Linked DNA regions of Homo sapiens. The protein of the gene in region 1 interacts with the protein of each later gene in a pairwise test. Each region holds a gene or a part of one and is shown in the gene's direction. Other genes may lie near its edges.

Region 1 (7,613 bases):
GCTCATGGAATCGACTGATCTTCCCATATTCCCCACCCCCATGAAGCAGCTGACTTGATAGAATAGTGGAATCGCCTTTTGAAGATGCAGTTACAGTGCTGGCTAGGGGACAATGCTCTGCAGGCTGGGGCAAGGTTCTCCAGAAAGCTGTGTATGCTCCAAATCAGCATCCAATATGCGGTGCTGTTTCTCCCATAGCCAGGATTCACTGGTCCAGGAATCAAGGGGTGGAAATGGGAGTGGCACCACGCACTATTACTCCAAGTGGCCCACTAGCAAAATTTTCGCTTGCTGTTTCTGTGACTTTACGCTCTGCTGACCTAGAGGTCTTAGTTCCGGAGGGAGGAATGCTGCCACCAGGAGACACAACAATGATTCAATTAAACTAGAATTTACGACTGCCACCTGGCCACGCTGAGCTCCACATGCCTCTGAATCAAAAGGCAAAGAGAGAGTTATGCATTGGCTGGGGAGACCCATCTGGACTACCAAGGAGAAGCTATAGACTACTTCTACTCCACCAGGAAGGTAAGGAAGAGTGTGTCTGGAATACAACGATTCCTTAGGGCATCTTTTAGTTTTACCATGCTTGTGATTAAGGTCAATGGAAAACTACAACACAATCCAGGCAGGGCTATTAATGGCCCAGACCCTTGAGGAATGAAGGTTTGTATCACTCCATCAGGTTAAGAACCATGACCAGCTGTCATGCTTCCCGAAGGCAGAGGGAACGCAGAGTGGGTAGTGGAAGAAGACAGTTACAAACACCAGCTATTGCCCATGCAACCTGTTATAAAGCATTAGATTGTCACGAGTATTTTCTCATTATTTTTTTCTAAATACATTTGTGCACATATTTGTATATACAGTATATATCTCTGTTGTCTTTTCTCTCATATTCCTTTATTACATAACTTAAGGCATATTGACTTTATATCATTGTATTAAGTATTGTTAATTTTACATTATGGTATTTAAGTTATGGAATACCAAGGAGAAGTGTAAACACTGGAGAATTTTACATCCACTTCTGGGGAAGGGCTTAGTGCATTTTTTGGTTGTATGCAGAAGAGTTTTATCACATTAGGCAAAATTATTACTTTGCTATTGTCTTTAGAGATAAAGTATGGTGTAAGGAGATGTGTAGGTGTGAAGTCGACAAGGGGTCAACTTATGGTGGCATATATATTCATGCTTAGATAAAACTAAGGTCACATTCTGTCATACAAGCTGGAGTACAGTGGCACAATCAAAGCTCACTGCAGCCTCAAACTCCTGGGCTCAACTGATCCTCTCACTTTAGCCTCCCAAGTACCTTGGGCTACGGGTGCGCACCACCACACTTGGCTAATTTTTAATAAACTTTTTGTAGAGGCAGGATCTTGCTATGGTGTCCAGGCTAGTCTCAAACTCCTGGGCTCAAGAGATCCTCCCACTTCAGCCTTCTAAATGGTGGGATTACAGGTGGGAGCCACTGCATCCAGCCATGGTTAATTTTATGTGTCAAGCTGACTTGGTCATGGGATGCCCAGGTAACTGGTTAAACATTATTTCTGGGTGTCTGCGTGTGAGGGTGTTTTTGGAAGAGATTAATGTTTGAAAAGACTGTGTAATGCTGATTGCCTTCAATTTGGGCAATCGGTTGAGAGCCTGAATAGAACAGAAAAGGGGAGGAAGGTTGAATTTGCTCTCTGCCTGACTGTGTGAGCTGGACTTTGATCCTCTCCTGCCCTCAGCACTCCTGGTTCTCAGGCCTTCAGACCTGGACTGGAATCTGTTCCATCTGCTCTCTAGTTCTCTGGCTCTCAGGACTTTGAAAGCTACAACACCAGCTTTCCTGGGTCTCCAGTCTGTAGATGGCAGATTGTAGAGCTTCTCACCCTCCATAATTGTATGAGTCAATTTCTTATAGTAAATCTTTATATATATTATAAATAATATTTATTACATATAAGCTGTGTATAATATATATCATATCTGTATTATATTATGCATATAAAATACATGTTTATGTATATATTTATATGTATTTATAATATATAAGATATTTATAATATTTATAAATAATATATAGAAATATAGATGTGTGTATATACATGTGTGTGCATATGTATATGTGTGTATATATTTGTATTTCTCCTATTGTTTCTGTTTCTCTGGAGAACCCTGATTATTAATATAAAAGGAAAAATAAATGGTGAATGAACAACCACTCCAAGAGGCCTGAGTCTGCGGCAGCACTTACTCCCTGGTTTCTGGGTGGAATTAGTAGGCACCAAACACACTGTCAAGACAGAAATAAGTGAGTTGCCGCTGAAAGACAACTGCACCTGCCCTATGTGCTGGAGAGGGTCTTTGAGGGTTTCCCACTGGGGCAGAGCGCAGGGCAGTGTGGGGGATGGGGAGGGCTGGGGCATATTGGGGACAATCCCTGTTGTGGGTGCCACCAGCAGACCACAAAAGGTGCCAAAGGAGGGAGTGAGAGGGAAGGGTTTACTAGGAAAGTCCTGCCCCACAGGAGGCTTCCGGGAGAGCTTCCCAGGAAGGGAGCAGTGAGCCAAGGCAGCCTGGGATGGGACTGAATGGGGCTTTTTTCTGCTTCCACCTCATTTTAAAGCAAATCATGTTGATTTGTATATTATGCAGGGGAGGAGAAAACATGCTTCCCCTCTACCCTTCTAGTTCGTTCAGCTAGTCTACAAATTAAATTGGCATCAAATAGATGAACAGGAGAAAAGCTGTTTTAATGTATGTACTCACAGATGGGAATCCCACAAGAATATGAGACTTAAAGAACAGGCCAGGTGAGTGAGGGGTCCAGTGCGAGGGCTCACACCTGTAATCCCAGCACTTTGGGAGGCCAAGGCAGGTGGATCGCTTGAGCCCAGATTGGAGACCAGTCTGGGCAACATAGGGAGACCCCCATCTCTACAAAAAATTAAATTAGCTGGGCGTGGTGGCACACGCCTCTAGTCCCAGCTACTCGGGAGGCTGAGGTGGGAGGATTACTTGTGCCCTGGGAGGTTGAAGCTGCCATGAGCCATGATTGAGCCACTGCACTCCAACCTGGGCAACAGAGTGAGACCCCTTCTGGGGGAAAAAAAAACACACGAAAAAAAAAAGGTGCAGCAGCCCGATGATTGAGGCTTATCTGTCACTCTGAGTGACAGAAAGAAATGGGGGTTTGAGGCTTCTGGGGAGCGGTGGAGGAGTGAGGGGAGCGTGAGGAGAGGAGGTGTCTGGTGAACGCAGGTTGCCGTGTGAGGCAGATAAAAGTTTCCCAGGTGATAAAAGTTGTCCGGGAACAGCTCTCTTCCTGGTACAGATCTGCTGACTAACAAACATTTCCTTTATAGGTGCAAATTTCCTTTACAAAAGGGCATTTTCTCAGAGGTACTCTGGTGTCTGCAGTTCCTCAACATAACCAGTTCCAAATCATCAATGTGCCAAAGAGGACTATGTTGGGGTAGCAGATTCTGGTCTCCTCCAGTCCTACTTGGGGTGATGAATTCTGGTCTACGGTCCTATTAAATTCTGGTGAATTCTGAGCCCCCACAATTGCAAACATTAGAAAGAACCTCTCAAGTGCCCGGGAACAGCCACGTCTTCCTGGCTGAGGTGTGTCCCACCACTTCCTCACTCCCGCCCTGGCCGGTGGTGCCGAGAGACCTGGGACCATCCGGGGGAGCACTTTCCACCGGACGCTGGTGGGGGCCAAGAAATGCCAGCCTAGGCGGACTGGGGAGGGTCTTGGGCGTCCGGCGCTGTGTCCCCGCCACTCGTGCTTGGGCCAGCAGTCCCCAAGGCCTACCCTGGGTCCTTGCCCAGAGGCTACAGTGGGTTCCCCGGAGGCCAAGACGGGGCCGGCCGCCTACAGGAGCTCGTGAGGTAGCAGCTCCGGGGGCTCACCCAGGACTCCAGGAGCGCTCCCCAGAATCCCCTTCCTTAACCCAAACTCGAGCCCTCGGGCAGCGCTGCGCCGCGGACCGGAGAGGGGCAGGTTGGCCGCTGTGGCCGGGCCCGGGAAGCGCCCCAGAGTCCCTTATGGGTCCCTCCGCAGCCGGGGTTGAGCCAGGCAGGGAACCCGTCCCGGACTTCCCTTGGGAAACGCCTCCTCCCGCCGCCCCCGCCCCCGCCCGCCCAGGGTGACCCGCGACCCGCTTGGGGGTGTCGCCCTGGACCCTGGGACACCGCCTCCTGAGATTAAAGCGAGAGCCAGGGCGGGCCGGGCCGAGTAGGCGCGAGCTAAGCAGGAGGCGGAGGCGGAGGCGGAGGGCGAGGGGCGGGGAGCGCCGCCTGGAGCGCGGCAGGTGAGCGGCGCCGGTACCAGGGTCCCGGCTCGGGGTCCGGGCTGGGGAGGGGAACCTGGGCGCCTGGGACCCGCCGATGCCCCCTGCCCCGCCCGGAGGTGAAAGCGGGTGTGAGGAGCGCGGCGCGGCAGGTGAGTGCGCCCGAGGGTCGAGCGCTGGGGCCAGCCGGGCAGGGCGCCTCCCGGGGTGCTGGGAGAGTGCTGGGCGCCTGGGACCCCTTGCGCACGGCCGAGAGCCCTCGCCGCCCCTGTTGGCTTGGCATCGCGAGGTTGGGGCAGGTGGTCCTGCGAGTCCCTAGCCAGTTGGTGGAAGAGAGTCCCCCGGGGTCCCCAAAGCTGGCTCCTAGTCCGCCTGCCCTCCACGGCCCCCGCCTGGGAGCACCGGTGCGCCTTTTCTCTTTGGGGAGGAGGACTGGGAGTGCTGTCGGTTGGCTTCTTTGTTTGGGGGAAATCTCTGCAGTCCCGCAGTGTTACCTGAACTCCTTCTGCTTCTTGGTTCCCTACTGAGGTAGGGAGAAACTGGAAACTCGCTGAGATGCCGGGAACGATACGGCCGGCGCGGCGGGGACCGCTGGGCCAGGCTGCTGGAGGGCCCCCGGGCGAGGTGCGAACGGCCAGTCAGTCTCGGGGAGGGACTGCTCGCGACTCAGGCCCCGTTGCGGCGACCCGCTGGCGGCGATCAGGGCCGGGGCCTCCTGGACACCCGGCACCGGCAGGAACCCGCCCGGGAGGAGCCGGTCTGGCTCCTCCGCTTGCGCTCCGTGCCGGGTTGGGGGGAAGGCGGGGCACCTGGGCGCTTCGGTCCACCTCATCCTGTCCTGCCCGGCTCGGCACAGTGGCACCCTGAGTGGTCAAGTGCTCCAGTCTGGCAGTGGGCGCTCTGCTCGAGCACGGGTCCAGCTGAAAAACTGCCCCATGTCCAGAAAGTTTGTGCGCCGAGAGCCCTGAGCGCTTGTGGCAGAGGAGGGCCTTCGCCCGCTCCGCCGTAGAGCACAGCGCGGTGGCCCTGAATCCTGTTCAGAACGCCCTGGTGGCAGCCCTAATCACGAGGAATCCTGGTGGCTTGTTTGGGAAGGAAAGGATAGCACGGCGGCCCGAGGTGAGCCCTGTGGGCAGGGAGCACCCAGGGCTCGCCTTCGAGGCTGCGCAGCCCTTCCCTCCGTGCGAACCTGTGCAGTGGTCCCGCGGGAAAGATGAGCGCATCGCGCCCAAGGCAATGCCTGACCTCACGGAGCTCCCAGCCGCGAGAACCTCCCGAATCATGGAAAATTACAAAGGCTACGCAGCCCAGTTACAAGGCATTTGGAAAACCTAAAGTGAGACTAAGTTTGTTGACCTGTCCCAGGAGATCTGGGAAGGTACTCCAGGAAGTGGGGATGCAGCCAGCCTCCCCTGAAGGAAGGATGGGGGTTGGGAGTGTGGCAGGGAGAGTTTACCAGCGCAAAGGGCCTTGGGGACGCAAGTAGCTAAGTCAGTCCTGGCTCCTGAGCTGCTGCTGTGAAGGGAGGACCTGGTGGGCTAGGTAACCGGGAGCTCCCCCAGAAAGTCACTGGAGGTTGCTCAGGACTTCCCCACCTTTACTGAGTGCTTTTGAAGAAGTAGGACCTGCCCTGCTCCGCTACAGAACTACTGGACAGGTGAGGTTAGAATGAAACCTAGCAACACCCTCGGGTAAGGACACACTAGGCTGGAGAGTTCGGGGTGCAACCTACGGGCTGAGACCTCTGCCTGGAGATGGCCATCTACACCTCGGCCTCTGGTTATTTTTAATTATCAGCTGGTGAGCTGGCTGGGCTTTTGTTCTCTGCTTGGACATTTGTTTGGTCCCCAGCAGCTTCCCTTATTCCCACCAGCCAAGGACAACCTTCTAACAACAAGCTTGTGCTGTTGCTGGAGCCTCAGGCAGGGCCTCCCAGGTTGCTAGGTGCTGGCCTGCCTGGCACCGTTGGCCACTCTATCTTGAACTCAAGTCACCTTAATTGTAGGAGTATATTTGGCTGCACTGGCATTATAATAATAACCACAGACATTGATGTGGCACTTTTTTCAGCCAGGCATCATTGCAAACCCTTTATAATGTACTTAACTCAATTGTAAGGAAACTGGGGAAGAGAGGTTGGGAAGCTTGTCCAAGATCTTGTAACCTGTAAGGGGCAGAACTGGGGATAAACATGGCCTGTCTGGCTCCATAGGTCAGTGCTTCCAGTGTCGGGCTCTGAGTTGGAGACACAGGATGCTTAGAAGGGGCTTTAGTGACAATCGGCACAGTACGGATTCCTTTTGATCCTTCCCTGGGTTCTCCCTCCAGGATGTTGGAATGTTACCAGCAAGTGGAGGAAAGGAGGGAAGGAAGCTGGAAACAAGGCGCCCGGAATCCTGATTGAAAAGGGCTTGTTCCTGGGCCAGGCTCTGGTTCTCCCCGACCTGAAAGAGCCCAGCCCCTGCCCACAGCCCTACCTGGGCTCCGTGCTGCTCCCTCTAGCAGTATGACATGGCCAGAGTGCCTGGAACTCTGAAAGGGGGCCTGCGGAGGGCTGACCTCCTAGGCCATGGGGGCATTGAGTGACAAGACGCTGGTGCAAATGTCCTGTAGGTGAAAAGGTAGATGCGTGCAGTACCTTATGCCAGTAACCACCACCACCACGATCATCATCATCCGAGTGTGTTGTCCCCCTACCAGGAAATGTAAACCAAAAGTCTGGCTGATAACTCTTACCCTTTTCCACCTGAATCTGCGGCAAGATTCCCTAGGGGATCTTCGTAATAATATGGGATCATTGCCTTGGTCCCAATTATTACATCAGACTCTGAGAATGGGGCCCAGGCATCTTATTTATTTATTTATTTTTCTAAGCCCTCTTGAAAATTCTGGGTTTGGGGAGCACTGATCAGATCTAAGCCTTGGACATTGAGGTAGAAAGGAAAGGTGAATGGTCAATGGAGTGCTTGTTCAGTTTTGGTTGCTGAAGACTTGGAAAGTGGCCTTGCTAGTGGGGAGAGTGAGGGCAGGGAGAGCTCCCTGTGGGGAACCAGAGAGCCCAGGAGCATTGAAGGCCCAGGTGCATTTCTGCTCTCTGGTCCCTCCTGCTCTGCACTCCCTGAGTGTCCCTCATCCCACAGTCACCAGGCCTTTGCTACTCTTCCCCGCCCCTCCTTACTTTCCAGGACACCTGCCAGGGGATCCTCCAATATGGGATGCACTGCGTGGCCTCAGGATTGGGGTGCAGGAGCATTATGTACCTGAGAGCTGAGGCCTGTATGGAGTCAGCCTTTGTGGGGCCCCTCCTGGCCCTAAGGGTGATTT
Region 2 (7,419 bases), on another chromosome or scaffold:
TTCACTTCTATGAAGCTCCAAATTTAAAAGATTTCCAAAACTGTAAAGAAATGACACTTTCTCTCTAATTTTATTTTGCTTTGTAAAATAATTTTGCTTTGTAAAATCGTTTTTCCATTAAAAATGTGATTTATGTCATAACCTATATTGGGTTTATTACTGATATTTTAAATTCACATGTAAATAAAAATGTAATTTCTCAGTAAATATCAACAGACATATCCCACATAAACAAAAGCTCTTGGGGGTCCTCAATACTTTTTGAGAGTGTTAAGGGGTCCTGAAAACAAAAAGCTTGAAGACTGCTGCTCTCTACCACGTTAGCTCCCCTGTGGCGGAGGATGACTGTCCTAAGAGCTCATAGGCACGGGGCAAGGGGAGCCTGGCTGTCAGCTGCCTGGGCTTCTAGTCTTGTGCTTTTTGCACACCAGTCCAGGGAACGAAGACCACTGGCTTTAAGATGCTTCCCCAGCTGTCCCCAGACTCTGCCAGCAGGGGATTCTCTGGTCTGAGCTTAAGTTGTGTTCTCCCAGCCAGGGATGCCCCTGCCCTTTGATGTCTCCTTGCTGCCACACATTTAGCCGCCCTCCCCATGCCAGCTTGGGGGGAGGGAAGCAGTGAGGGTAGGGAGGTGGCTGGGGCAGCTGGGCAACTGTCCCCACCCGTCCCTGGCACGGCTCTGCCCAGTACACAAAGAGCAAAGTGAATCTTGTCCCCACCCCTGCAGCTGAGGGGCTGGAGGAGGAAACGGGGAGGCCCACACAGAAGGGGTGGCCACCGTGGGGCTGTCCATCACTCAGGGCTCTCAGAGGGAGTCAACCCAGAAACAGACAAAGAGGGTGAGTCTGGGCTGTGTTCTTAGCTAGTGAGAGGTCCCCTAGAGGATGAAGTAGATGATGCTAATGAGGATGACTGGATGTCACACCCATGATGCTATTAGGTCCTCATAATAGCATAGTGAGGTGGACAGCTAGTACCTGACCCATCTCACAGATGAACATACTAATGCCTAACAAAGCAGAACGACTCACGCTGGGTCCCAGAGCTGGCCAGTGGAAGCACTGAGACCTCCACATACTGAAGGCATGGACTATTGACCGCTGTTGGTATTGGTCTCATCATTGACTATCATTAAGTGTTGGCTGTTTGCATGCTTCCTGCCCAGTGGCAGGTTCAAAGAAGCCCGCAGGAAGCGTGCTCCTTTCTTTCCCAGGGCCCGCAATTGGGCTGGAAGATAGAGCAACAAAAAGCGCCCATGTAACTCATGGGAACATTCATGTGTGCTGAATGGCAGGTGAAGGTGCCACAGAGAGGCTGAGGATTTCAGAGGGCACCATGAACTGGAGTGAGGTCGCAGAGCAGGTGCCATTGGCTCTTGGCCTGTTTGGGTGGGTGGCATTCAGAGAGGTGGAAGGTCAGATGCACTGTTCACGCCTGTAATCTCAGCACTTTGGAAGGCCAAGGTAGGAGGATCACACGAGGCCAGGAGATCAACGCTGCAGTGAGCTATGAAGCTGTGATTGCACCACTGCACTGCAGCTTGGGTAACAGAGTGAGACCCTGTCTCTAAATAATTAAATAAATAAAATAAAAATAAAACCGGAGAAGTGGAGAGGGATTGGAGGTGGGCTTTCACAGAGGGAGAAACGGCTTAAGTACAGGCCAAAAAGTGAGAAGGCTGCAGACAGGGCTGGTAGGGGGAGGGGGAAATTTGGCACACCCAGCTAAAGGTCCTTCTGTGTCTCCTTCTCCAAGGAACCCAAGACCTTCACTTGGTTGGTGTGAGCACTCCAGGAGGCAGGCACCCTCCCTCAGCCCTCAAGCAAGCAAAAATGGGTTTAAAAAAAGAAGGAGAAGAAGCAGCAGCAGCAGCCGCCACAGAGCTTGTGACAGCTACAGCCTAAGGGCAACAGGCAGGGGAGACCAAGGACCAGAAAGAGCAGAGGCTTTTTCAAAGAAAGAGATCCCTCTCCCAGCACCCAGCGATGGCGGCAAACCCCACCCACAGTGCCTGCTAAGAACAAGTCCCACGTGAGAACAACATGGCCCCCCGAGATGCCCACAGGGACCCCGAGATGCCTGCAGTGCTTGGCTCTCCCGCTGGCCAGCTGCCCACCTGGCTCAGGCCCAGTACTCGTGAGTCAGCCGATCAATCCCAATGTTGCCAGGATGATGGGGGCGGGAGTAAGGGCCCTGGGGGAGGGCAGGGGTGGGCACTGCAGGCGAGCTGTCTCCCACATCTGGCACCTGCACACAGCTGAGGCCGAGCTGAGAGGATGCTTCTGTGGGCTCCCCCTCCTCCCGGCACCCCTCCCCTCCTTTCACTGTCCTAGGACACTCTCTGGCTGCTGGAGTCTTAGGCAAATATTTAAAGGGGCAGCAAGGGGGTGAGGAGGGTGGTGGGAGCAAACACTTCCCTCCCTTTCTTCCTCCCTGCGCTTCTCAGGGGCTCTCAGTTCAGATGCCATGCTGTTATGCAACCTTGGGGCTGAAGGCCCTCCAGATGGAGAGGGGGACAGGGGAACCTGCCAGCTCATGACCGAAGGGCAGGGCCCAGGTGGGAGGGGGCTGGGGCAGGGGACAGGAACTGGGGTGGCATGTTAAAGGACAGGAGGCTGGTTGGGCATGGTGGCTCACACCTGTAATCCTAGCACTTTAGGAGGCCGAGATCACTTGAGCCCAGGAGTTCGAGACCAGCCTGGGCAACATGGTGAAAACTCATCTCTATAAAACAAGCAAAAATTAGCTGGGCACAATGGCATGCACTGGTAGTCCCAGCTACTTGGGATGCTGAGGTGTGAGGATCACCGGAGTCCAGGAGGTCAACGCTGCAGTGAGCAGTGATCTCGCTACTGCATGCCAGCCTGGGTGATAAAGTGAGACCCTGTCTCACAACAAAACAAAACAAAACAAAACAAAAGGATAGGAGGTTAAGGGAGCGAGCCCAGGCCTGGACTCTGCCACAGTCACCTGAGTTTAGAGGTGAAGGGACTTTAGAGACCACCTGGCCCAAGGAGTGAAAGGGAACCTGAGAGAAAGGGTGAGCCAGCCCAAAGTCATTGGCAGATTTGACCTCGTAAATACATAGAGATGGCTTTGGGAAGGCACTAGGAAAGACAGAGAAAAGAGAAGGAGACAGTCCTCAAAGCTGATCGTATTTGGGTGAGTATTATTCTCAGGGCAAATTTAGGATCAGAGGATGCAGAAAGGGGAGTCTAGAGGGGTAGAGTGTAGACCACAGGGTGAGTGAGCTGATTCGAGGATGGGGAGACTGGGAGCCCACCAGTGACCAGAGCCAGCCCTGTTCAGGGCTGTCCGGGCAGAAGAAAGCAGTGTCAGACCTGGAATCTGCCATCAGCACAGCCTGCAATTGACAGACAAGCCCAGAGCAAAGAAGGAAGCACTGCACATGAGTAAGAGCTTGCCACCAGTGGGGACAGAGTTTCCAGAATTAGGAAAATAATCACTGGGGGCAAGTTTGAGGTTGGTACCAGATATGTGGGAGGAGGCAAGGTAAGGGAAAGAGTACTTGAAGTTGGAACTGGTCCTTGCAGGGAAATGCACATTTATGAAACCCCGAAAACTGATGTCAAAGCACCTCCTGCCTTGGGCAGAGTCCTCTCAGAGTCTACAGGTGCTGCCTCCAGAACCCTCTTCCTGGAGCGCATCCCTATGTATCTAGAAATTCTGCTGGGAAATATGATGGTCAGACCCTTGGCCACCTGAAAGGTTCAGGGTGGTAGAAGAAAAAGGAAAGCCACAGGGCAGCAGGGGCAGGTGCCAGCAAGGAAGGCAGGCACGCCAGGAAGACACCCATGGTGAGAAGTGCAGATGGCCCGAGGGCAAGTTTGCTCAACTCACCCAGGTTTGCTCTTGCTGGGGCCAAGAGGACTCATGTGCCAGGGCCAAGGGCCCTTGGGGGCTCTCACAGGGGGCTTATCTGGGCTTCGGTTCTGGAGGGCCAGGAACAAACAGGCTTCAAAGCCAAGGGCTTGGCTGGCACACAGGGGGCTTGGTCCTTCACCTCTGTCCCCTCTCCCTACGGACACATATAAGACCCTGGTCACACCTGGGAGAGGAGGAGAGGAGAGCATAGCACCTGCAGCAAGATGGATGTGGGCAGCAAAGAGGTCCTGATGGAGAGCCCGCCGGTGAGTGTGGTTGCGTGTGTGTATGTATGTGTGCGCGCGCACATGTGTGTGATGGGCCCTGCCTCCTCTATCCTCCCTGGCCTGTTTCCTTATCCAGATCCATTCACTCAACTAACCTAGGACTGTGATAAGTCAGGATGGGGACACCAAGACCACTAAGCCAGGGACCCTTGGGGAGCTGTTTGTGGGCCAAGAGCCACTATAGGGGTCCGTAGAAAGGGCTGTCCGTAGACAGCCCTGAGTCAGAAGCCATGAGAAACTTCAGAAGTCAGGGGACACTTCTCAGAGAAAAACCACATACGAGCTGGAGCCAGAATAAGGAGGAGCTCGCCCGGTGGAGAAGGAGGAAGGCATTCCAGGAAGGAGGGAGACTCTGTATCACCGCATGGAGGTGATCACTTGGGGAGAGAGAGGGGCTGACCATGGCTGGGGGAAGCAGCAGGGAGAGACAGGTGAAGCAGGCTCTCTTGGGTCCCTCAAAACTAGACCCTGCTTCTAAGCTTCTATGTGTCTATGGGTTTGTTAGAATCCAGGCCACCTCCTCCAAGAAGCCTTCTCTGATCTCCTCAGCCCTTCCCTGTCCATCCATCGCATCGGCTGTCCAGCCCTAGGCAGCCGTGGGAGGGTGTTCAGCTTGTATAGGGAGAAGAGGGGACAGCCTCATGACCTCATGCCTGTCTCCTTGCCTGCCCCACCGTGTCAGGACTACTCCGCAGCTCCCCGGGGCCGATTTGGCATTCCCTGCTGCCCAGTGCACCTGAAACGCCTTCTTATCGTGGTGGTGGTGGTGGTCCTCATCGTCGTGGTGATTGTGGGAGCCCTGCTCATGGGTCTCCACATGAGCCAGAAACACACGGAGATGGTGAGAGGTGTGGGATGCACAGCAGTGGGCACAGGACATGCCAGACAGCGGGGCTAGGTGGGATGGGCGATAGGAAACTGTCCAAGGGGAGTGGAGGGGAGGAGGCAAGGGGCACAGCTAGAAGGAAAGAGGCACGAACCAGGCAGCAACCCAGCTCAGGCTTTTCCACAAGGCCCCTGCCCCGCAGCAGGACAGCCAGCTCCCTCCAGCACCTGGTTCCACTCAGCCTCCCTGAACTCTTGGGAAAGAGGGAAGCGCATTTGAGTACAGAGGCCTGAGTATGGGGATGGGTACCACTGGCTGAGTAGGAAAGGGGAAGACCAGGTGGCTCCATGCCCTTTCCCCAGGTTCTGGAGATGAGCATTGGGGCGCCGGAAGCCCAGCAACGCCTGGCCCTGAGTGAGCACCTGGTTACCACTGCCACCTTCTCCATCGGCTCCACTGGCCTCGTGGTGTATGACTACCAGCAGGTGGGTATGCCCAGACCTCCTGACCCTGGGACCAATGACAAGGCTCTGCTAGAGCCACCCAGCTGGGCCACTTCATCCACATCCATCTCTCCCTCTCCTCCAGACCTTTTTTGCCTGAGCCCCAGATTCTAGTATGACTCCCGTGCCCAACCTAGAGGGAGGTGGCTAAGGACCTGGGTCAGGGAGAGAGCAGGGCAGGGACCCCCGAATGATCTCCAGCATTCTGTGCCTAGCTGCTGATCGCCTACAAGCCAGCCCCTGGCACCTGCTGCTACATCATGAAGATAGCTCCAGAGAGCATCCCCAGTCTTGAGGCTCTCACTAGAAAAGTCCACAACTTCCAGGTGTGTGTGTGTGGGTGAAAAGAGTGGGCTGTCTCCCTCCCAGGGCTGCTGGGAGGAGTGTCCGAATGGTGGCTATTTGTCACCTGTAAAGCACTGTTCCTCATTGGCTGCCAGCTGACTGCCCCTCTCCTATTCCCCTGCACGACTCCTTTCCTTCCCACCCCACTGCCAAGCTGCTGGGCTCAGCTGAGTCCACTCACTACCTGGTGGCTTCTGACTCTAGCACAGCCCCTCTTTACTGATGAGAAAACTGAGGCTCAGAGAGATTGCCTGATATACCTGAAGTCCCACAATAAGGGCTGCACATGGGATAGAAACTCACTTCCTACATTCCAGATGGAATGCTCTCTGCAGGCCAAGCCCGCAGTGCCTACGTCTAAGCTGGGCCAGGCAGAGGGGCGAGATGCAGGCTCAGCACCCTCCGGAGGGGACCCGGCCTTCCTGGGCATGGCCGTGAGCACCCTGTGTGGCGAGGTGCCGCTCTACTACATCTAGGACGCCTCCGGTGAGCAGGTGTGATCCCAGGGCCCCTGATCAGCAGCGGAGGAGCGCTCGGGCCACCTGCCCGGGCTGTGGAGGAGCGCTCGCGCTGACCAGGCGCTGGGGCGTCCACTGAAGCGGGGTCATCCAGGCAACTCGGGGGAGGGGAAGCTCACAGACCGGTACTTCCCACTCCCCTGATTCTCTCTGTCCATCCTCAACATTCCTTTGCTTCACAGGGTCAGTGGAAGCCCCAACGGGAAAGGAAACGCCCCGGGCAAAGGGTCTTTTGCAGCTTTTGCAGACGGGCAAGAAGCTGCTTCTGCCCACACCGCAGGGACAAGCCCTGGAGAAATGGGAGCTTGGGGAGAGGATGGGAGTGGGCAGAGGTGGCGCCCAGGGGCCCGGGAACTCCTGCCACAACAGAATAAAGCAGCCTGATTGAAAAGCAAAGGGTCTGCTTCTGTCTTCCTGCAGGGCGCAGTCCTGCCCTGGCGGGGGCCGGCCAAGAAGGGAAGGGCCTTGGGAGAGCAAAGTGGGGTTTGCCATTCGCCCTCTGTCCCAGGGCGCTGGGGCACTGGGTCCACCTCGGCGGGGGAGAGGGGCTCGCAGGGAGCCATCCACGGGCTTTCGGCGCCCTCCAGCGGCGTCTCCGGAGGAGGGAGAGACACCAAGACAGCGAGAGAGACAGAGCGCAGAGAGCGAGACGCGAGAGAGCGAGGGTCCAAGAAGGGGAGATAGGGAGACGCGGGCGGAGAGACCGACCCGAGGCGGGGGCGCGGGGCAGGGGCGGCGCGAGGACCTGACAGCGTGTCCCGCGGCGGGGCGGGGGCTCGGCCGCGCGCCCGCGGGGGAGGCCGCCGCTAGAGGGCACTTCAGGAGGGACAGCCCTCCCGGCACCCCGGGGCCCGAGCTCCAGCCCCGGCCTCGCGGCCCGCGGCCCGCGGCCCGGGCGGCCCGAGCCCCCTCCCCGGGCGCGCGGCTCTCCGCCTTCCCCGCCCCGGCTGGCGCGCGGCCCGGCCCGGCCGAGCACTGTCCCGGCCCCGAGGGGGGCAGAGCTCGGGCGAAAACCCGCCCTCCAGCGAGCTCATTTCCCTAAAAAGGGGGGGGGG
Region 3 (7,617 bases), on another chromosome or scaffold:
GTAATTCTATATAAGTTACACCCCCCCCTAGTTTTTTTGGACATATTACTGGTCCACGAAACCTGAATGTCTAGGTGCCATTGGTATCGTGGGAACAACATCGGCTCTGAAAGCAGACAGAACTGAGATTGAAGACCAGCTCTGCCACTTACCAAGGCCAAACAGCAGTTCAGCTTTTCTGGACCTTAGTTTCATTATCTGTAATGTAGGAATAATCATACTTTGCCAGGTTATTGTACAAGTTGAAGAAAATCTTTTTTCTTCACAGGACTAGCCCCCCATAATGGTGGGTGTTGAATAAAAGGTGGTTACCAACACCCCTGGGGAAGTTACTTAACCTCTTTGTGCCTCATTTGTGGAATGGGATGCTAGAAGTCCACCTGGCGTAAAGGATTGTTGTGTAAGGATGAGATTATATGCATACAGGGTGCTTCACATATACTAAGTCCTCCTTGAGGATTAGCTGCTATTGATTATTTTATCATTATTGTAAAGATTTCAGCTACCATTGAGAATTTACAGGTCATCCTTTCTTTGTGGAGTTTTTAATCATGCATGATGGTTATGTCAAAACTCACAAACAATGATGGTATTAAAATAGTACTTGCAAAATGTGATCAGTGCTTTGAGGAAGGTAAGGACTTGGCCTGGTACATCATAAATATTTATTAGAGTTTGTTGACTTAAAAAAAGAAAGCCAGAAAAGTCTTTTGACCTCTAGAACCTTAAACTGTTCCCTTGCAGTTCTTCTTTTTTGGCATGGAGAATTAATTATCTGCAAACTTCTTCCTTCGCCAGAGCAGCTCTTTCACAAAATAAGGCTTACCTAAATTCTATTTTTTTTTGAGACGGAGTTTCACTCTTGTTGCCCAGTCTGGAGCACAATGGTGCGATCTCAGCTCACTGCAACCACCGCCTCACAGGTTCAAGCGATTCTCCTACCCCAGCCTCCCAAGTACCTGGGATTACAGGTGTGCACCACTACACCTGGCTAATTTTTGTGTTTTTGGTAGAGATGGGGTTTTGCCATGTTGGCCAGGCTGGTCTCAAACTCCTGACCTCAGGTGATTCACCCACCTCAACATCCCAAAGTGCTGGGATTACAGGTGTGAGCGACTGTGCCCAGCCTAAATTCTTAAGCCTTCTACCAAATATAAGAGAAAATCCAGGAGCTGGAGTGGGATTGGGTGACCTGTGGATCCAGTTGCATATTTACCCCGCTCCATCTGTGGTTCAAATGCTCACCAGGCTACAGCAGAGAAGCTGGACTTATGCATGCTGGTAGTAGGTATCAGTAATATGAAATCAGGATCCAGTTTTATTTTTATTTTTATTTATTTATTTTTTGAGATGGAGTCTCGCTGTGTCACCCAGGCTCGAGTGCAGTGGCACGATCTTGGCTCACTGCAAGCTCCACCTCCCGGGTTCACGCCATTCTCCTGCCTTAGCCTCCCGAGTAGCTGGGACTACAGGGGATCCAGTTTTATTTACAACCTTACATATCCATGAATTGGCTATAATTACATGTACAATCAGCATAGCCAAGGACAAAGTACTATGATAGTTAGCTCTTCTCTTCCTTTTCTTTATCTGTCTGTTCTCTTATCTTCTTCCTTGGCTATTCACCAGGTTGGTGGAAGAGGAGGTTCCCCAGCACTGGCCACTGACTGTGTGCTGTACTACTTTTTTTTTTTTTTGAGATGGAGTCTCACTTTGTTGCCCAGGCTGGAGTGCAGTGGCACGATCTTGGCTCACTGCAACCTCTGCCTCCCGGGTTCCAGCGATTCTCCTGCCTCAGCCTCCTGAGTAGCTGGGACTACAGGCGTGTGCCACCACACCCAGCTAATTTTTGTATTTTTTTAGTACAGATGGGGTTTCACCGTGTTGTCCAGGCTGGTCTCGAACTCCTGACCTCATGATCCGCCTGCCTCAGCCTTCCAAAGTGCTGGGATTACAGGCTTGAGCCACCGCGCTTGGCCTGTGTGTCCTACTTTCTACTTGTCCTTAGCATCACTCAGGCACACTGTTTCCCCACTACCCTACTTTACCCAACTGCTACGCACCTGTCCACATACATGCTGTATAGATTGTTTCCTGGATGATCCTTTGACCTCTTACTAATAACAACCCTTACATAGCAAGGGTGCTATGCAGATGGTTCATTAATCAATTTATTCTCATTCCATCTCCCTCCTCCCCATCTCCTTATGCTCTGTTCTCTCCGTAGATTAAAATATAAAACAAAGAGGCAGCATGTTCCTAATTGGATTGTTTTCCAGATTTACAGAGTCTCTGGGAATATTCTGAATTCGTACTCCCAGTATTGTTTTTATCAGGATTCTAAGAAGTGGCAAAGTTAAGTCAGCATCTCAAGGTGGAGAAGTCTGCAGAATGTTTGGTGGAAAAGCCATGAGCTAGGGTTGAAAGAGCTGTCACCTAGCATGGCTGTTAACCCAGGCAAGTGACTTAGCCATGCTCACCCTTAATTTCTGGTCAGCAAAACAAGAGAACTGGGATCTTTAAGGCCTCTTCTAGCATCAACTGTGTGGGTTTCTGTTCTTTGGTTACTCATCTACAAAACATAGTCATCAAGTTTTACTGTTTCTGAAACTGATGTTCTTTGTTAGCTCCTTCTTGACGTAAGTTTAAATCTGTAACTAGTATCTGCTGATTTTAAAATGTACCTTTATTGTTTTTATTACAAAAAATATTATACTTTCTACTGATACATTTCTCATTAGTTATTACCAATGACTCCTCTTTCTCTTCCTTATTCTATCCTGTCTCATCTCATTCTTTATAGTTAAGTGTTAATGGTTGGTAGCTAGTATCTCAGACTTTTCTAGGCTTGAAATATATGCATATGTAAACATAAAATTCCTTTGACTATAAAGGGATTATATTATACATATGGTTCTGAAGCTTGTGTTTTTATTAATTAGCAGATGATAGAGACAAACATTAGGAAACAATATTCAGTGAAACATCAGTCTCTCTTATACCCTTAATCCTCAGTTGTCCTTCCTTAGAGGCAATGTTTATATATCAGAAATTTTCTGTGTGTATATACACACATATATAGTTAGGATTTTTTTTTAACAAAGTGGGAGCACACTACTCACTGTTTAGCTCCTTGCTGCTGCTGTTTTTTTCCCCTCCTTTGGTTTAATGTTATATTTTGTAGATTATTCCATGTCAAATAATTCATGTAAACACTTAGTAAGTGCTCAAAAATGTTAATTATCATTATCAGCCCCCTAAACAGCTTTCCTATTCTTTTTTTAAGGCTGCAAAACATTCCATTGTTTACATACACTAGTTACTTATTGATATTTCCAATGTGGCTATTATAAATAATGGTTCAGTGGACATCCTTGCTTCTAAGTCCTTGTAGGACTGTATCTGAGGAAGAAATGTCTGTTGAAAGACTGTACCTTTTATATTTTGTTAGGTATTTAGAAGGCAGTCTAGCAGTTGGTTGAACCTGTTTGCATTCCTATCAAGAATGTATGAGGTGGCCGGGTATGGTGGCTCATGCCTGTAATCCCAGCACTTTGGGAGGCCGAGGTGGGTGGATCACTTGAGGTCAGGAGTTCGAGACCAGCCTGGACAACATGGTGAAACCCCATCTCTACTGAAAACACAAAAATTAGCTGGGCATGGTGGCATGTGCATGTAATCCCAGCTACTTGGGAGGCTGAGGCAGGAGAATTGCTTAAACTCTGGAGCTGGAGGTTGCAGTGAGCCAAGATCATGCCACTGCACTCCAGGCTGGGCGACAGAGGGAGACACTGTCTCAAAAAATAATAATAATAATAAAGAAAGAATGTATAAGGTCAGGTGAAGTGGCTCATGCTTGTAATCCCAGCACTTTGGGAGGCAGGAGGGTCACTTTAGATTAGGAGTTTGAGACCAGCCTGGCCAACATGGTGAAATCCTGTCTCTCAAAAAAACCCACAAAAATTAGCTGGGTGTGGTGGTGGACACCTGTAATCCCTGCTACTTGGGGAGCTGAGAGGAGAATTGCTTGAACCCAGGTAGTGGAGGTTGCAGTGAGCCAAGGTTGCAACACTGCATTTCAGCCTGGGATGATAGAGCAAGACTCCATCTTAACAAAACAAAACAAAAAAAAAAAAAAGAAAAGAAAAGAAAAGGAAAGAATGTATGAGAGTGTCTGGTTCCTTGTCCCTTTCCAAAACTGTCTTCTCAGTTTCCTAATCTGATAGGTGGAAGTGGTATCTTGTTTTAGTGTGTATTTCTTTTCTTTTCTTTTCTTTTTTCTTTTTTTTTTTTGAGACGGAGTCTTGCTCTGTCACCCAGGCTGGAGTGCAGTGGCACAGTCTCGGCTCACTGCAACCTCCGCCTCCCGGGTTCAAGTGATTCTCCTGCCTCAGCCTCCTGCGTAGCTGCGATTGTGCGCCACCATGCCCAGCTAATTTTTGTGTTTTTAGTAGAGATGGGGTTTCACCATATTGGTCAGGCTGGTCTCGAACTCCTGACCTCGTGATCCACCTGCCTTGACCTGCTGGGATTACAGGCGTAAGCCACCACACCTGGCCAGATATATTTTAAAAGTGTTTGTTAGCTTTCTCCACTCATTCATTTTATGGCAGAAGTTGTTTCCAAACATATCCTTTACTGTGTTTCTTTTTTCTTTTTTTTTTTTTTTTTTTTGAGACAGAGTCTCGCTCTTTCACCAGGCTGGAGCGCAGTGGCGCGATCTCGGCTCACTGCAACCTCCGCCTCCCGGGTTCAAGCGATTTTCCTGCCTCAGCCTCCCGAGTAGCTGGGACTACAGGCGCACGCCACCACGCCTGGCTAGTTTTTATATTTTTAGTAGAGACGGGGTTTTACCGTGTTTGCCAGGATGGTTTCCATCTCTTGACCTTGTGATCCGCCCACTTCAGCCTCCCAGAGTGCTGGGATTACAGGCGTTGAGCCACCGCGTCCAGCCCTTCTGTGTTTCTTAACATACCACACACATAGACACAGTTCAGCCTAAAAACAAACAAACAAAAACTTGTGTCTGGGCGCACTGGCTCACACCTGTAATCCCAGCACTTTGGGAGGCTGAGGTGAACGGATCATGAGGTCAAGAGATCGAGACCATCCTGGCCAACATGGTGAAAACCTGTCTCTACCAAAAATACAAAAAATTAGCTGCGCGTGGTGGCACGTGCCTGTAGTCCCAGCTACTCAGGAGGCTGAGGCAGGAGAATCGCTTGAACCCGGGTGGCGGAGGTTGCAGTGAGCCGAGATCGCGCCACTGCACTCCAGCCTGTAGACAGAACAAGGCTCCGTCTCCAAAAAAAAAAAAAAAAAAAAAAAACCACTTTTGTAGTTTGCATCAAGAAAGCTAGTATATAAAACTTTGTACTTAGTCCAAGGGAAGTGGCGCCGGTTGTTGACAGACGCCACTTCCCTTTTTGCTTCATGCGCACGCGCCGCATTCTCGTCCACCTATTGGTGAATTGTAGGTTTCTTTCCAAAGACTACATTTCCCAGAAGGATGGTTGTTTGGTTTTTTTTTTTTAACCATCACTTATGAATTGTTGTGGAAAAGATGTTAGAGACTATTTAGTGTTACATATAAAGAAAGAGAGATCCCAAAAGGTGAAATAACTGGTTCAAGAGCATAGATAGTGGAATAGGGCTACAACTCTGCCTCTGGGGCTCCTAGTCTAGCGTGTTTGCTAGATTCACACATTAAAATGATTCTCTTTGTAATTTTCTTTACAAATCATGCAATGTATTTAAATAGTGAACTGATGGTAACAATTTATAGAGCAAATCTGTTGCATAAAGTAGCACTTTATAAATATCCTAGGTGTGTTAATAGATATTAACATGGAAGAAAGAGAGCAATATAGAGAACTTCTCTCCCCCAGCGCCCCCACTTTTTTAAACAGAGCATCTTAGGGTATTAATATGTAGGAAAATGCCCTGGAACACTGACACACACATATAACTCAAAACCTAAGGAATCACTGAGCCAGGTTGCACCATTGGCAGGAGAAGTCATTTAAATTTGGTCACTGGGGCTGGGCGTGGTGACTCACGCCTTGTAATTCCAGCACTTTGGGAGGCCAAGGCAGGCAGATCACCTGAGGTCATGAGTTCGAGACCAGCCTGGCCAGCATGGCAAAAACCCGTCTCTAATAAAAATACAAAACTTAGCCGGTTGTGGTGGTGCACGTCTGTAAGCCCAGCTACTCGGGAGGCTGAGGCAGGAGAACTGCTTGAACCCGGGAGGCAGAGGTTGCAGTGGGCCGAGATCGCGCCATTGCACTCCAGCCTGGGCGACAGAGCGAGACTCTGTCTCAAAAATAAGTAAATAAGTTTGGTCACGGGGAGGAAAGTAATATTTACCTGGTATATTTCTCAATGAAAAACTTGTGTCATGATCCACGTCAGTGTTTATAAGTGCCTCTGCGATGGTCCTGCCAAGGTCCTTTACCTGACGGCCTGGTGAAGGTGAAGGTCAGAGCAGGAAAAACGCAAGAGTGGTGCGCATCCCTTCTGGGTAGTAGTGATTACAGTCTGTAAAAGCCACAACTGACTTGAAGAGCTAACTTAATAATGTAATAGTTAAAACGAGGTCATTTATTCACCATTGAACCTTAACAAGATATCTGCAGAACACAGCTTGAAGGGGACCGAAGACAGAACCTCTTGGATGATCTTGTAACTCGAGAGAGACTACTTCTGGCATCCTTTAAGAATGAGGGTGCCGAACCAGATCTAATCAGGTAGGATGTTTTTATTTACAGGGATTACTTGGTGGGCGAAGACTTCTTTGCAGATACTACAGCTGTTTCCTGAATGGCTTACTTTAGGAATTAATCAAAATCTATTCTATTCATTTATGGTGTTTGACTATAATTTTCTACTCAATTTAGTTTTCGTTAATTTTTGTTTGTTTGTTTGAGACAGAGTCTCGCTCTGTCACCCAGGCTGGAGTGCAGTGGCGTGATCTTGGCTCTCTGCAAGCTCCACCTCCCAGGTTTCCACCATTCTACTGCCTCAGCCTCCCAAGTAGTTGGGATTACAGGCGCCCACCGCCACCGTGCCCGACTAATTTTTTGTATTTTTAGTAGAGATGGGGTTTCACCGTATTAGTCAGGATGGTCTCGATCTCCTGACCTCGTGATCCGCCCGCCTTGGCCTCCCAAAGTGCTGGGATTACAGGTGTGAGCCACTGCGCCCGGCCAGTTTTCGTTAATTTTCTGGGTTTAGTAAACCAGGTATGTTCAGCTGAATCCCATCTTGGGTGGAACATACTAAGGGAGACTGTGGGTGAAGTCAGAACATTTCTTTGGCATTCTTTGGTTGAGTTTTCTGCTTTGTTAACTGCCTTCTAAACTCCTGAGGTCACTACTTCTCTGTGTGGGCAAAGCAGTTTTTTGTTTTTTTTTTTAATTGGCATATTGAGAACATGAGTCCTAATAAGACTGGTCCGGGGCTCACAGAGGCAAAGGAGTTGGATCCTCCTCCCCATTCTTCGCCAGTGAGTGATTCACACTTCAAAGAGCTGACAGCTGCTCTGAGCCCGGTTCTGCTGGAAGACCTGGAGGACGGGTCGGGCTTTCCAAGGCTGAGGTTGATGAACCGTAAATT
Region 4 (8,269 bases), on another chromosome or scaffold:
AAACATCACATAATCATCTCAATAGAAGCAGAAAAAAAACCCCACCATTTGACAAAATCCAACACCCATTCATGATAAAAAACACTCAACACACTAGGAATACACAGGAAATTCCTACCCTGATAAAAGGCATCTACAAATAATCCACAGGCAACATCATACTTAATAATGAACCGCTGAATGATTGTCTCCTGAAACAAGGAACAAAACAAGGATGTCCACTCTCATCACTTCATTCAACATTGTACTGGAGGTTCTGGTACAGTCAAGGCTAGAAAATAAAAGGAATCCAGATTAGAAAGGAAGATATAAAATTATCTCTATTTACAGGTTTTATAATCTTATGTTGAAGATTCCACTAATAAAACTATTAGAGCTAGTAAATAAGTTCAACAGAATTGTAGGGTGTAAGATCAATATACAAAACAGTTGTAGGAGTAGCACAGTGTCTCACACCTGTATTCCTAGCACTTTGGGAGGCTGAGGTGGAAGGATTGCCTGAGCCCAGGAATTCAAGACTAGCCTGGACAACACAGCAAGACCCTGTCTTTGCAAAAAATTTAAAAATTAGCTGGACATGGTGGCACACATCTGCAGTCCTGGCTACTTGGGAGACTGAGGTGGGAGGATCACTTGAGCCCAGGATTTTGTGCTGAGCAGCAGCCTGGGCAACAGAGCAAGGCCCTGTCTCTAAAATGATAATAATAATAATAACAAAATACTTTTTTTTTCTGAGACAGAGTCTTGCTCTGTCACCCAGGCTAGGGTGCAGTGGTGCAATCTCGGCTTACTGCAACCTCCACCTCCCAGGTTCAAGCAGTTCTCCTACCTCAGCCTCCCGACTAGCTGGGACTACAGGCGCATGCCACCACACCTGGCTAATTTTTTTGTATTTTTAGTAGAGACAGGGTTTCACCGTGTTAGCCAGGATGGTCTAGATCCCCTGACATCGTGATCCACCCGCCTCAGCCTCCCAAAGTGCTGGGATTACAGGCGTGAGCCACCGCACCCGGCCAATAAAATAATTTTTAAAAGGTTAAACATAGAGTTACCATCTGATCCATCAATTCCACTTCTACATGTATACCCAAGAGAAATGAAAACATATGTCCACACAAAAACTAGTCCATGAGGGAGGCCGAGGTAGGCGGATCACCCAAGGTCAGGAGCTCGATACCAGCCTGGCCAACATGATGAAACCCCATTTCTACTAAAAATACAAAATTAGTTGGGCGTGGGGGTGGGCACCTGTAATCCCAGCTACTCGGGAGGCTGAGGCAGGAGAATCGCTTGAACCCAGGAGGCAGAGGTTACAGTGAGCCAAGATCATGCCATTGCACTCCAACCTGGGCAAAAAGAGCGAAATTCCATCTCAAATAAAACAACCTTGTACATGAATGTTCACAGCACCATTATTCACAGTAGCCAAAAAGAAAAAATAACACAAATATCAACTACTGAACAGATAAAAAAATGTGGTGTAATGAGAAAAACACTGAATTGTACGAAAAACCTTCCCCCAAACTTGGAGGCAGTTGAGAGACCAGAGAATGACTCAGGCAAGTCCAGCTTGGCGAGTAGATGAGTTTGAGGACTTACATACGGGACACTCCTTGACAGCAGCAGGACAGTGCTAGAGATCCGCGCCACCTCCCATCTCTAAGCCATTTTTAAGCTAATTTTCTAGCTCTTTGCCTACTGCGTGTATGCAGTGGGACTGTTTTCCTTGGTAGATTCTCAGATCCTCTCCAGGATGTTTGAGTTCTCAGGAATATCTGCTCCTAGGCTGGGCACCATGGCCTTGGCTCACCACCCAGCATTCAGGATTCAAGCAGTGGATATACACCTCCAAGTAACCTGATGGGGGACCTGCCACACTACATGTGGTATAGCCATACAACAGAACATTATTCAGCAATAAAAATGAATGAAATACTGGTTCATGTTCCAACTAGGATGAGCACTGAAAACAGTATGCTCAGTGAAAGAAGCAGACAGAACAGGTCACATATTGTGTGACTCAATTTATATGAAAGGTCAAGAATAGGCAAACCCACAGAAGCAAAGAGTAGATTCAGAGTTGCCAGGGGCTTGGTGGAGGGGGAGATGGGAAGTGACTGCTAATGGGTTCAGGATTTTAGTAGGGGAGGGTGATCACAATATTCTGAAATTAGATAGTGGTCATCATTGCACAACTCTGAAGAAACTAAAATGCACCTTATTGGACTCTTTCAAAGGGTGGATTTTATGGCATACGAATATCTCAACAAAACTATTCTTATTTTTTAAATTTTTTTTTCCAAGGCAGAGTCTCACTCTGTTGCCCAAGTTGGAGTGCAGTGGCGCAATCTCGGCTCACTGCAGCCTCCACCTCCCAGGTTCAAGTGATTCTCGTGACTCAGCCTCCTGAGTAACAGGGATTACAGACATGCACCACCACACCCAGCTAATTTTTGTATTTTTAGTAGAGACAAGAGTTTCACCATGTTGGCCAGACTGGTCTCGAACTCCTGACCTCAAATGATCTGCCTGCCTCAGCCTCCCAAAGTACTGGGATTACAGGCATGAGCCACCATGCCTGGCCTCAATAAAGCTATGTTAAAAAAAAAAAGGCAGACAATTCAAATGTCCTTCAAAGAGTGATGGGTAAGTAAACTGTGGTACATACATACCACTGAATACTACTCAGCAATAAAACCTATCTGTGTTGACGTATATAGCTTAGATGAATCTCTTCTAGGGAATTTTACTGAGTTAAAAAAAAAAAGGCAATCTTAGAAAATTACAGACTGTGTGGTCTATGAACTGAATGTTTGTGTTCATCCCAAACTGATATGTGGAAACCCTAATCCCCAACGTGATAGTATTTGGAGACGTGCCTTTGGGAGGTAATTAGGTAATTAAAGCCCTCATGATGGGATTAGTACTATTTTTTTTTTTTTTGAGACAGAGTCTTACTCTGTCACCCAGGCTGGAATGCAGTGGCACGATCTCGGCTCACTGAAACCTCTGCCTCCTGGGTTCAAGCAATTCTCCTGCCTCAGCCTCCTGAGTAGCTGGATTACAGGCGCATGCCACCACACCCAGCTAATTTGTTTTGTATTTTTAGTAGAGATGGGGTTTCACCATGTTGGTCAGGCTGGTCTTGAACTCCTGACCTCATGATCTACCTGCCTCGGCCTCCCAAAGTGCTGGAATTACAGGCGTGAGCCACCACACCCAGCCGCAGGATTAGTTCACTTATAAGAAGAAACAAGACCAGGCATGGTGGCTCATGCCTGTAATCCAAGCACTTGGGGAGACTGAGACAGGAGGTTCACTTGAGCCCAGGAGTTTGAGGCCATTCTGGGCAACATAGGAAGACCTTGTCTCTATAAAAAATGAAAAGTTAGCTAGGCATGATGGCACGCATGCCTGTAGTCTCAACTATTTGGGAGGCTGAAGCGGGAGGACTAGTGGAGCCTGGGAGATGGCGACTGCAGTGAGCTGTGATTGCGCCACTGCCCTCCAGCCTGGGCAACAGAGACCGTGTCTCTAAAAATAATAATAATAATAAAATAAATAAAAATAAGAGAGAGTTTACTTTCCCTCTCTGCTTTCCGCAATGTGAGGACACAGCAGGAAGATGGCCATCTGAAAACTATGAAGATGGTCCTCCCCAGAACTTGACTCTGCTGGCATTCTGACCTCAGTCTTGACAGCTTCCAGGACGGTGAAAAATAAATCTCTGTCGTTTAAACCACCCAGTCTATGATACTCTGTTATAGCGGCCTTAACTGATTAAGACAGTATGATTCTATTTTTTTTTTTTTTTTTGAGACAGAGTCTCACTCTGTCTCCCAGGCTGGAGTGCAGTGGCACGATCTCTGCTCACCGCCACCTCCGCCCCCCGGGTTCAAGTGATTCTCCTGCCTCAGGCTCCCGAGTAGCTGGGACTACTGGCGTGCACCACCATGCCCAGCTAATTTTTGTATTTTTAATAGAGACAGGACTTCGCCATGTTGGCCAGGCTGGTCTCGAACTCCTGACCTCAAGTGATCAGCCCGCCTTGGCCTCCCAAAGTGCTGGGATTACAGGTGTGAGCCACCGCACTCAACCAGTATGATTCAATTTATATAAACTTTTTGGAGGCCAGGCACGGTGGCTCATGCCTGTAATCCCAGCACTTTGGGAGGCTGAGGTGGGTGGATCACTTGAGGTCAGGAGTTTGAGACCAACCTGGCCAACATGGCGAAACCCCATCTCTACTAAAAATACAAAAATTAGCTGGGAGTGGTGGTGCATGCCTGTAATCCCAGGTACTCGGGAGGCTGAGGCAGGAGAATCACATGAACCCGGGAGGCAGAGGTTGCAGTGAGCAAAGATCGTGCCACTGCACCCCAGCCGGGGAGACAGAGTGAGACTCTGTCTCAAAAAAAAAAAAAAAAAAAAAAAAAAAAAAGGTGTGATTTGGGTTTCTAAGGATTCCCAGTGTGTCCTCATCGGTGAGGACCTCTGATGCATGGAGAGGTAAGTGCAGTGGAGAGCATATCCACAAAACAGAGATGAGGCTATTGGGATGCTGGAGATTACGTGACAATTTATGAGTGACACACAGCCAAGAACAGAACCAGGACTGGATGCCCATTTCGTCATTCAACAAATATTTACTGAGCACCTACAATCCCTCAAAAACTGTTCTAGAGTCTAAACCGATGGGGTCGTAACCATGCCCCCAGCCCACTCCCTTGCAGGAAAGACCGTGGCTCCAGGTCCCCCACATTACTGATTAAAAAAAAACTCCAGTGCTCTGGCCATGGGCGTGAAGGCAAGGACAGAGACCGGGAGGATAATGAGGCCAAACAGCTTTGGCCCACCGCCACCGGGACTGGCAAAGAGGCCAGACCTCCTAATGCTCTTCCTTGGAGGAAGGAGCAGTGTTTGATTTGGTCAAGAGGCCAAGACTAAAAGTAAGAGGATAAACACGAGCTGGCTGGACGCGAGGCTGGCTCAGGGCAGTGCTGTCGGGCTGAGGATTCAGGGAGCTGGTGTTGTCCAAGCTTCACATTTGCGGAAACTACAACTCCCAGCGTGTCCCGCGGCCGCCCGAGCGGGCGTCATGTGATGCATGCTCACGTGTCTCCGCAGCCGGCTCGGGAAAGAATCCCCCAAGGTAGGTGGCCGGAGACAGGCTCTGGAGGGTGGAAGTGTTAGATCCCCGAGGTCTGTGGAGCCCCTCAGTCCCCGCCACCGCGGAAAAGCTCAGACCCTTTCCCTGCAGGGGTCCAGATCCTGGCGTCCTCGCCCCACGCCCGTCCCTCTGTTGCGCCAGCTCTGCCGCGCCTTTACCCAGCCAGAGGGTCTCCACCCAGTCCTAGGCCGGGATCGGGTCCCGGAGCTCCTCCCCAGGTTACCCCACAGTAGCCCACCCTTCTCGCTCCAGGCCTGGGAATCGCCCCGCCCCGGCCTCCTGGCCCGGGTGCGCCCTGGCTCACCTCACAAAGCCTCACCTCACAAAGCAGCCCACCCTTTCTATCTCAGGGCTCCAACCCCAGGCTGGACTGGGAGCACACTCCAGTTGGGATCTGAGGGGCCTACATCGCTGGCCTGAGCATGTGGGCATCAGGCTTCTATTCTGGCTCTGCCAGCTACCCACTGTGACCTTAGTCTAACCTCTCCCTCCTGGGCCTGTTTTCCTATCTGTCCTGAAGCTCCATTTCATGAGTAAGCGTGAGAGCCGCTCAGTTTCCTCCAGCTCTGCTGAAGCCAGCACAGAAGTAGCCCAAACTCTTCCCTCTGCTGACAGCAAATTTTAGGCAAAGTCTTGAGAAAGAAGAAATTGGGTCCAGAAAGGGAAGTGAGGAGAATCAGATCCCAGACCTTTGGGGAGAAGGAGCAACCGCCTCTGGCACAGCCCATCAGGGAGAAAGAGCAGGTAAGGTGCAACAATGAGCTGAGTAATTTGCCAGTGAGCAGTGGGGGTGCCGAGAGGTCTTAACCAAGGCAGAGAATCTGCAAGAGGTGGGACCCCCAGCTTCTGAGTTCCACGAGGACCCCAGCCTGCACTCTCATGTGGGTGGCAGGAGAGGCTGGAGGATGGTGCAGGACTCGGGCAGGGGTGCCCAAGGGAAACATTTTGGTTGGAGAGTCAGGAAGCCGCACCAAGCCTTGTGACCTTGGACGAATCACTCTGTAGACCTCTGTCTCTGTGACGTGAGCAGCGGGGAGGAGATGGTCACAGCTCTGGCAGTGGTCACTTTGCAGGGTTCTTTCTCTAGCTACACTGGAAGCCTGGGAGTCCCAAGACTCTGCCTTCGCTGCTCACTGCTTTGATTTTGCTGAGTTGCTGGTTGGGTGACAGGATGTGTAAGAGGATGTGTAAGCCCTGTGACATCTGACAGATCTTTCTGGGTTTCGAGCCAGCAGAGGAATGTTTCCTCTGGTGCCATGTCCCTTGGTTCCATGCTTGATAACAGATGGCTGAGAGCACATGAACTTTCACCCTTTCCCTCTCATGAGTGGATGGTCCCCAGCTTTGTTTGTCCATCATCAGGAGGAGCAATGGGAAGTAGTCCAAGGGGTCTTGTTAGTCATTTTAAACCCCCAGTGGGCTGAAGGCATCAGAGAGGGTGGCCCAATGGTTAGGGCAGTCATTATGGCTGAATATGCTCAGTTCCCTTTTTTTCCCTCTGGGCTATAAAGACTAAACCAGGCTGGGGGCTGTGGCTCACGCCTGTAATCCCAGCACTTTGGGAGGCCGAGGCAGCAGGATTGCTTGAGCCCAGGAGTTCAAGACCAGCCTGGGCAACATAGTGAGACCTCCTCATCTCTACAGAAAATTTAAACATGACAGGCGTGGGGGGCTTGTCACGTGGGAGAAGTCACATGGGAGAAGAGTTGAGAATTGGCCTGAATTTTGAAAGGCCAATTTTGTTCCCCACAGGAACAAAAAATTTAAAAAGTTGGCCAGGCGTGGTGGCTCACGCCTGTAATCCTAGCACTTTGGGAGGCCAAGGGGGATCACAAGGTCAGGAGTTCAAGACCAGCCTGGCCAACATGGCAAAACCCCATCTCTACTAAAAATACAAAAATTAGCCAGGCATGGTGGCGGGCACCTGTAATCCCAGCTACTCAGGAGGCTGAGGCAGGAAAGTCTCTTGAACCCGGGAGGCAGAGGTTGCAGTGAGCTGAGATTGTGCCATTGCACTCCAGCCTGGGTGACAAAGCAAGACTCCGTCTCAAAAAAAAAAAAAATTTTAAAAGTTAGCTGGCTGTGGTGGCACACACCTGTAGTCCCAGGTACTCGGGAAGTTGAGGTGGGAGGATTGCTTGAGCCTGGTAGATTGAGGCTGCAGTGAGCTCTGATTGCGCCACTGCACTCCAGCCTGGGCAACAGAGTGATACCCTGTCTCTAAATAAATAAAGACTAAACCAGGGAGGGAGTAGAGATTAAAATGGAGTTTTGTATGAGTACCGTGAAATCGGGACTCAGGAATGAGGAGACTCTAGGAGAAGGAGTCTTTGGCAGATTTCGCCAGCCTGGGTGGTAACCAGCTAATAGCAGCCTCTGGGGAAGACTGCCCTGGCTCCTCCCTGCCCCCTTAGTTCCTGCCCTTGAAATCTGGCCTTCTTCCTGCTCTTTCTCCCATTAGCTATCCCAGGGCCTCTGTGCCCATTGTTACCTGGCCAATAGCACCAGGCTGTGGTTTGAGTTTTGTTTGTTTGTTTGTTTTGAGATAGAGTCTCACTCTGTCGCCCAGACTGGAGTGCAGTGGCGTGATCTGGGCTCACTGCAAACTCTGTCTCCTAATTTCGGGCGATTCTCCTGCCTCAGCCTCCTGCACAGCTGGGATTACAGGGGTGCACCACCACACCTGGCTAATTTTTGTATTTTTAGTAGAGATGGGGTTTCACCATGTTGGCCAGGCTGGTCTCAAACTCCTGACCCCAGGTGATCTGCCCACCTCGACCTCTCAAAGTGCTGGAATTACAGATGTGAGCCACCACACCCGGCCCAGGCTCTGGTTTTGATCAGTGTTCTGCTCCCTGCTTGCTTAGGGCTGGAGAGTCTCAGGCATGGTGGTGGTGGGCAACATGGGAAGGGGCATCTGCAGAAATAACAGCAGCAGTGACCATTTATTGAGTCTTAAACCCTTACTGATATTAACACACGACCCACAGGAACATATGATGTAAAGGCCTAAAGGGGCGAAGTGACTTGCCCAGGGTCACACAGATAGGCAGCGGAGGAGTCAGCATTCTGACGGCAGAACCTACTCGGAGACCCAGA

Evidence for each region.
Region 2: the proteins of TMPRSS2 (region 1) and SFTPC interact in binary tests that used the Homo sapiens proteins (3 or more experiments, as listed by UniProt).
Region 3: the proteins of TMPRSS2 (region 1) and STX8 interact in binary tests that used the Homo sapiens proteins (3 or more experiments, as listed by UniProt).
Region 4: the proteins of TMPRSS2 (region 1) and SLC38A7 interact in binary tests that used the Homo sapiens proteins (3 or more experiments, as listed by UniProt).

The regions. Positions count from the first base shown.
Region 1 is NC_000021.9:41,504,778-41,512,390, reverse strand, and holds the start of TMPRSS2 (transmembrane protease serine 2), read left to right. Parts: upstream 1-4,232; 5' UTR 4,233-4,310; intron 4,311-4,325; exon of another isoform or gene 4,326-4,386; coding exon of another isoform or gene 4,387-4,441; intron 4,442-7,613. UniProt on the Homo sapiens protein: Plasma membrane-anchored serine protease that cleaves at arginine residues. Participates in proteolytic cascades of relevance for the normal physiologic function of the prostate.
Region 2 is NC_000008.11:22,157,720-22,165,138, forward strand, and holds SFTPC (surfactant protein C), read left to right. Parts: upstream 1-4,078; 5' UTR 4,079-4,109; coding exon 4,110-4,151; intron 4,152-4,854; coding exon 4,855-5,013; intron 5,014-5,360; coding exon 5,361-5,483; intron 5,484-5,716; coding exon 5,717-5,827; intron 5,828-6,163; coding exon of another isoform or gene 6,164-6,181; coding exon 6,182-6,322; 3' UTR 6,323-6,340; exon of another isoform or gene 6,341-6,546; 3' UTR 6,547-6,760; downstream 6,761-7,419. UniProt on the Homo sapiens protein: Pulmonary surfactant associated proteins promote alveolar stability by lowering the surface tension at the air-liquid interface in the peripheral air spaces.
Region 3 is NC_000017.11:9,544,304-9,551,920, reverse strand, and holds part of STX8 (syntaxin-8), read left to right. Parts: intron 1-6,638; coding exon 6,639-6,749; intron 6,750-7,617. UniProt on the Homo sapiens protein: Vesicle trafficking protein that functions in the early secretory pathway, possibly by mediating retrograde transport from cis-Golgi membranes to the ER.
Region 4 is NC_000016.10:58,681,600-58,689,868, reverse strand, and holds the start of SLC38A7 (sodium-coupled neutral amino acid transporter 7), read left to right. Parts: upstream 1-5,098; 5' UTR 5,099-5,152; intron 5,153-5,537; exon of another isoform or gene 5,538-5,690; 5' UTR 5,691-5,914; intron 5,915-8,269. UniProt on the Homo sapiens protein: Symporter that selectively cotransports sodium ions and amino acids, such as L-glutamine and L-asparagine from the lysosome into the cytoplasm and may participates in mTORC1 activation. The transport activity requires an acidic lysosomal lumen.